Homo sapiens: one gene and its partner. The protein of the gene in region 1 purifies or fractionates together with the protein of each later gene. This does not show direct contact. Each region holds a gene or a part of one and is shown on either strand. Other genes may lie near its edges.

What was found. The genes of interacting proteins can lie anywhere in the genome.
Region 2: the proteins of TIGAR (region 1) and TMEM231 purify together in Homo sapiens (co-immunoprecipitation; one large-scale study listed by IntAct). This does not show direct contact.

Annotation. Positions count from the first base shown.
Region 1 is NC_000012.12:4,355,595-4,359,249, reverse strand, and holds part of TIGAR (fructose-2,6-bisphosphatase TIGAR), read right to left. Parts: 3' UTR 1-3,655.
Region 2 is NC_000016.10:75,542,632-75,546,286, reverse strand, and holds part of TMEM231 (transmembrane protein 231), read left to right. Parts: intron 1-209; exon of another isoform or gene 210-332; coding exon 333-461; intron 462-791; coding exon 792-935; intron 936-3,603; coding exon 3,604-3,655. UniProt on the Homo sapiens protein: Transmembrane component of the tectonic-like complex, a complex localized at the transition zone of primary cilia and acting as a barrier that prevents diffusion of transmembrane proteins between the cilia and plasma membranes.

The DNA of each region.
Region 1 (3,655 bases):
GCCCCTGAATAAGAACTTCTGAGCTCATACTGACATAAATAAGTAGGCAAGAAGGGTAAAGCTGTCTTAGTACAGAATGCCAACTAATAAACATAGAAGCAAAAGTAGAGTCATGGCGTGAGTTGGCTAAAGAAAAAAAAAACAGAGTCAGAAAATAAACAATAAAGGCTAAAAGAGTAGTTGCAAATTTAATGAGGAACCAGACATATTGATACAACGTCCTGTCCCTCCTGACATGACCAAGGACACATCCTTTCTGGGCTGCTTCTGACAAAAGTATACAATCCAAATCTAATAATGAGGATATGTCAGGAAAAAAAACCACAAGAACTCACCTATTTTTTAAAAAGTAACAAGATCAAGAAAGACAAAGTTCATCTGGTTAGATAGATGGTGGGAGAAAAAAAGAAGGGCAAAGGAAGGCAAAGGAGTAGACGGAAGGACATGAAGAAACATGACAACTAAATGCAACACAACACACAGTCCTGGATTGATTGGATTCTTGATTCAGAAAAAAAAAAAAAGCCACAGGTACATCAACAAAATAATTGACAGAATTTAAATTTGGTCTAAGGATTAGCTAATAGGCAATATCAATGTCAAATTTCCTGACTCAGATATTTATTCTGGGTTATATATAAGAACATTGTTGATCTCAGGAAACACACATTGAAATTTTATAGGGGAAGAGTATGAGGACTCAAAGTTACTCTCCAATGTTTCAGGGGAAAACAGAGGGAGAGAGAAAAAATGGCAAAGCAAGTGGGACAACAGGTAAGCAAGTGGTGAATAAGTGTGAAGAGTATACAGCCATTCCTTCTACTGTTCTTGCAACTTTTCTGTAGGTTTGATAAATCCAAGATAAAAGATTACCAAAACACACGCACATACACATTACTGTAATTATTCTCTATGAGGATACAGTAGCTCAGTGATTTTTCTTTTTCTTTTTTTTTTTTTTTGGAGACGCCCAGCTAATTTTTGTATTTTTAGTAAAGACAGGGTTTCACCATGTTGGCCAGGCTGGTCTTGAACTCCTGACCTCAGGTAATCCACCCACCTTGGCCTCCCAAAGTGCTGGGATTACAGGCCTGAGTCACCATGCACAGCCCATTATTTATCAAATGATTTTTTTTTTTTTTTTTTGAGACCCAGTCTTGCTCTGTCACCCAGGCTGCAGTGCAGTGGCGCGACCTTGGCTCACTGCAAGCTCCACCTCCCGGGTTCACGCCATTCTACTGCCTCAGCCTCCCAAGTAGCTGGGACTACAGGCGCCGGCCACCAGGCCTGGCTAATTTTTTCTATTTTTCAGTGGAGACGAGGTTTCACTGTGTTAGCCAGGATGGTCTCTATCTCCTGACCTCGTGATCTGCCCGCCTTGGCCTCCCAAAGTGCTGGGATTACAGGTGCGAGCCACCACGCCCAGCCACCTCAGCGATTGCTTGGTCACAAAATTACTAAGAACCAGGCCTTGAACCTGAATCCAGGCCTTCTGACAATAGATCTTTCCAGTGTCCCTGCCCTGTCACTTATCAATGAAGAAATCACCCCCTTAGGCCATATTGCTGAACAATGAACCAAGTGATTGAGAACTGTGGGGGGAAATCCTAAAGTTTTTAAAGCACTGGTAGTTACCTGTCATGACGACCTACTTAGCCATCTTGTTTGGACACAAAGGAACTGACACATACTTCAATCTGAAAGCTGTACTTCCAAATTGATGGGGCCCAAAGAAAGAGGGGTAAAAAGCAACATTTACATGAAACAAGGATGTTTTCTAGGAGCCCCATTCAATTTCCAAACTGGTAAGTGCTGCGTCTGATAGCAGGTACTCAGCCCAGCACCACCGCTCTACTGAATACTTCTTTCCTTTGCATCTCCTGTGTCTGTGCTTAACAGGGCTGATAATTATGCCAGGTGGATTCACCTAGGATGATCTATTTCAATTAAATTGTGACTGACCTTAATATAGTGAAGACATATAATAGAACCATTTAACTTACACGAATTCATCTACTTGTAAATGTAATATGCATGCAAGTATACATAATATAAGCATATGTACTTAAGTGATATGGCCAAATATTGCACTTCCTGCATAAGCCTAAGCCATGGAATGGGTGTGAGATGCACTGTTCTCTCAGGGATATCTTACTTTATGTGCTTCCCCTAATATGAGCATGTCCTTGCTGAGTATGACATAGCATTTAAAGAAATTAGAATAAAGATGCTAACTAAAACAGGTTTTTAGTTAAAAAGCAATAAAGGAGAATCCTCATCCAAAAATGGAAATGAATAGTAGGTGAGTGAGGAGTGGGAAGGACAGGAAAATAAGAGACAGGTGAATGGGAGCCATGGTTTCGACTCCAGGTGCAAGGGAGCCTAAGCGACAGGCTCTGCTTGAAGCTGCGAGCCTGGGGTGAAGCCTGGAACTGGAAACTTCTGCCCATTCCCTCTGCTAGGCCTCGGACTAAACCTAACAGAAACAGGCAAGACAAGGTGGGAAAGATGAGTACAGGGAACACAGAGGACTTTTAGGGCAGTGAAAATACTCTGCATGATACTATAATGGTGGAATACATGTCTTCATACGTTTGTCCAAACCCACAGATCATGCAACACCAAGAATGAACCCTAATGTAAACTATGGGTTTCAGGTGATGTGGATATGTCAGTGTAATGTGGGCTCACCGATGGTAACAGATGCACTGGTCTGGTGGGGGATGTTGATAGTAGGAGAAGCAATGCGTGTGTAGGGGCAGGGGATAGATGGGAAATCTCTCTACCTTCCTCTCACTTTTGCTGGGAAATTAAAGTTTCTCTTAAAAAATTAAGTCTCTTAAAAAATTCATTTGTTAAAAAACAATCAAAAACCGGGAAAATATTACAAATAAAATATCATTGCATAAAAGACTCAGGCAAAATGAGAGATCTATGACATTCACAGATGGGAGGATGAGAAATCCTAAGCTAACCTAGAAATTCAATGTCCAGGCTCCTTAGTTAGCCATTGGAGGCACTCTGGCCTGGTCCCTGCCAACATCCCTGGCCTTGCTTCTTCAAATGGCCCAACAGCCAGTGCTGCCATCTTCCCTGCCTCCAACCTTGTGCTCCTATAGCACCCCCTACAGCCTGCTCTCCACATTGCAAGCAGGATGGTCCTGCTGAAACAAGTCTGATCACATCACTGCCCAAACTGGCCAATGGCATCTCATCTCACTTGAGTAAAAGCCCAAGGCCTCAGCACAGGCCACCAGGCCATGTGGCCTGTCCTCTTCTCCCGTCACTCTCCCATCCCCCTTGCTCAAAGGAGTCAAGCCTGATCCTTCCTCATGGCCTCTGCACTCTACTCCTTCCATGCTGCTCCTCTCCCCAGAGCAGCAGATCTTACATCCTTCAGTGCTGACACCATCGAGTCCTCCCTGCCCATCCTGGATAAAGCAGCATTCCTCCCACCAGTCTCCATCCCCCTTACTCTGACCTATTTTGCTCAACAGCACTGACCACAATGTGAGCCAACACACTGTCTTCTCTGACAGAACAAATGTTCCACAAGGACAGAGACTTTGTTTTGGTTCATGGCTACATATTCACAGCTTTATCATAGTTGTAGTAGTTCTTAAAATAGCCTGGCATGTGTGTGCCATGCTCAAAA
Region 2 (3,655 bases), on another chromosome or scaffold:
TGTAAAAAAGAAAAAAATATCAGTGCAAAATAAGCAAGATCACATGAGACAACTGAAAGGCACAAATACTATCCAGATGTTTTTTGTTATTGCCCATTTATTTTGGCCAGTGAACATTTGAAAGGCCCAGATATGAAGTTCAGGGACCATGCACTTTGTGTCTCTCCCCAGTATTAATGCACTTACATCTATCTGCTTTTCTCTTTTAGTGGAGGAGATAATGCCTGTTGTGTACAGCAAGACAGTGGGTCATTGTGTATTTACAGAAGTGATGTGGATTCCTCCCAGACTCATTAGTGACCAGGGCTGCTGGGCCTGTTTGGGTTTCCTAGACTAGAGAAGAAGACAGGAACCAGGATGGGAAGACGGACATGTTACATTTTAAGCTGGAGCTTCCCCTGCAGTCCACGGAGCACGTTCTCGGTGTGCAGCTCATCCTGACTTTCTCCTATCGATTACACGTGAGTCAGTCCGCTGGGAGGCTGTCCTCTCCCTTGTGTCTTTTTAGTAGACCAGAGTCCTTCTTCTGATTTCTAGAAGACCCGCACTCTAGCGGGCCCTCTTCCCCATGTAGTTTGGGATTTAACTTAGGCCAATGGAATGGTTTTCACTAGTCATATTAACTGACATGGGCTATTAATAGCTCAGAAGGTTCTAGGCAGTGTTTCCTGCATGGCTACGCTAGGTATGTGAGGGCCTCTTAGGTTTCAGCCAAGACAGGTGACTCTTAGCACCCAGAGCCCTTCAGATCTGATGGCGGTTGGTATTGTTGGTCCTTCTAATGATTTCAGAGGATGGCGACCCTCGTGATGCAGAGCATGGCGTTTCTCCAGTCCTCCTTTCCTGTCCCGGGATCCCAGTTATACGTGAACGGAGACCTGAGGCTGCAGCAGAAGCAGCCGCTGAGCTGTGGTGGCCTAGATGCCCGATACAACGTAAGAGCGCTTCTCATTGTCCAGCTCCTTTGTTTCTCTGTGTTACTGTTCATTAAGTTCTTTAAAGAGGGGAATGAAAAGTAGAAATGTCAGGCCAGGCGCAGTGGCTCATACCTGTAATCCCAGCACTTTGGGAGGCGGAGATGTGCGGATGGATCACTTGAGGTCCGGAGTTTGAAACCAGTCTGGCCAACCTGGTGAAACCCTGTCTCTACTAAAAATACAAAAAATTAGCCAGGCGTGTGGTGCGTGCCTGTAATCCTAGCTACTTGGGAGACTGAGGCAGGAGAATTGCTTGAACCCAGGAGGTGGAGGTTACAGTGAGCTGAGATCTCGCCACTGCACTCCAGCCTGGGCAACAGAGCAAGACTCTGTCTCAAAAAAAAAAAAAAAAAAAAAAAAGAAAAAGAAAAGAAAAGTAGAAATATCATTTCTTTGTGGGTGGCACCAAAGAGGGTCTCTGTAGAATTCTTGCCATGAATTTTTTCAAACTACAGAGAAGGTACACGCATAGTTACACCTAGAAGGGAAGAGAAACAAAATCTGTGTTTGTCGAAGAACTAAATTGCTTATTGCTTTTAGGTCCACGTGGGTGCACACACACACATTGTGTCTTCCATACACACGCTTGGTCACACGCAGGATGTACTCCGAAGGACACTGTAAAATGATGATGTAAAATGTTCATGTAAAGTATTTCAGAAATATTACTAGCCATAGTTTACTGAACTCATAACATATGCCACCCCTGAGTGCAGGCGTTTACCTATATCATCTCCTTTAATCATCATGGCAACCTCTGAGCTGCCTGCATTGTCCTTTCCCCGCACTCCAGCCACTTGTCCCATCACTGCCCCCGCTTGCTCCCTTCCAGCCCCCCTGGCCTTTTTGCTGTTCCTCAAACCCAAGAAGCAGCTGCCACCTCAGGGCTTTTGCTTTTGCCATTTCCTCTGCCAGGCATCCATGTGGCTTATCGGACCATGCCATTCAGGTCCCTGTTCAGATATCCCCAAGCCCAGTCCTTCTCTGACCTGCTTCTACAGTAGCAGCCCCTCCTTCCACCATTCCTCAGCCAGACTCTCCCTCCTGCCGCCTGGCCTACTCAGGATATGTGTTTGTGTGTTTATTTGCTGTCTCCCTCAGCCTTGACAGCAGTGGCATCTCAAATACTATCACATCCGTGCCTAGCACACTGCCTGGCAGATGGTAAGCTCACAGAGATACTTGTTTAAATAATGAACTCATTTTGCAGAAGACGTAACTGGGGCTTAAAGTGATTAATTTTCCCAAAGGCTCAAATCTTGAAAGATAACAGAGCCTGTCTGTGTGCAGAACTCATGCATCTAATCACTCATTCCTCACTTTTATTTTATCACAATGGGGACCATAGAAGTTGAGCTGAGGTACTTCTGAAAATGAAAAAGGGATGTTATCGGTTATTACAGCCATAAACCCAGACTTGTAGATATATAGTGGGTTTTACTGTTGCTCTGACTATAATCAATATAAGTTGTAAAGAATAGGAAGCTGCAACATATGAAATGAATATGGCACTTTTTGTTTGAATGTCTATATATCAGATTACATTAACAGCAAGCAATTATTTCCTCCTTTAAGGGATTATATGCTTATGGTTTGCATTTTATCTATATCTCTATATTTAAAAGTGATAAAGAACTTAGCACCCAGAAAAGACCAAGAAAATGACAAAGGAGTTGGAAGTATGGTTTCTTTTTTTTGTCTTTGTGTAGGGGTTTTTATTTGTATTTTATTTTTATTTTTGAGACAGAGTCTTGCTCTGTCACCCAGGCTACAGTGGAGTGGCATGATCTCGGCTCACTGCAACCTCTGTCTCCCAGGCTTAAGAGATCCTCTGATTTCAGCCTCCTGAATAGCTGGGATTACAGCCATATGCCACCACGCCTGGCTAATTTTTGTTTTCTTTGTAGTAGAGATGGGGTTTCACCATGTTGGCCAGACTGGTCTCGAACTCCTGGTCTCAAGTGATCCATCTGCCTGGGCTTCCCAAAGTGTTGGGATTAGAGGCGTGAGCTTCCATGCCTGGCTTTTTATTTTTTTTTATTTTTATTTTTTTTTGAGAGATGAAGTCTTTCTCTGTTTCCTAAACTGGAGTGTAGTGAGTGGCATGATCATCATTGACTACGGCCTTGAACTCATGGCCTCAAGTGGTCCTCCTGCCTCAGCCTCCCAAGTCACTGGGATTGTAGGCATGAGCCACCACACCTGGCGAAAATACGGTCTGTTAAAATAATTTAAGGAATTCTTTCTCCCGCTGAGATAAAGAGGGGTATTTTAAAAATAGCTTTAAAACCTGTAAAACATGGACACTGACCCCTTATTTCCATCCACAGAAAGAAAGACTGAGAGTAAATGGGCTTAAATTGTTGCAAGAGAGTTTATTCATCTTTGAAGAGAAGATTATTGATACTGCAGTAGGCCACCAAGAACAAGAGGGTGCTCTGTGGGACCAGCCTGGGTGGGCAGCAGCCTGTTTTATTCATCTTTGAAGAAAAGATTATTGATACTGCAGTAGGCCACCAAGAACAAGAGGGTGCTCTGTGGGACCAGCCTGGGTGGGCAGAAGGGTAGAAGGAAAAGGGGAGGAGTCTCCCAGGTGCTCACACCACATCCTCCTCCCGTGTCCCAGATATCCGTGATCAACGGGACCAGCCCCTTTGCCTATGACTACGACCTCACCC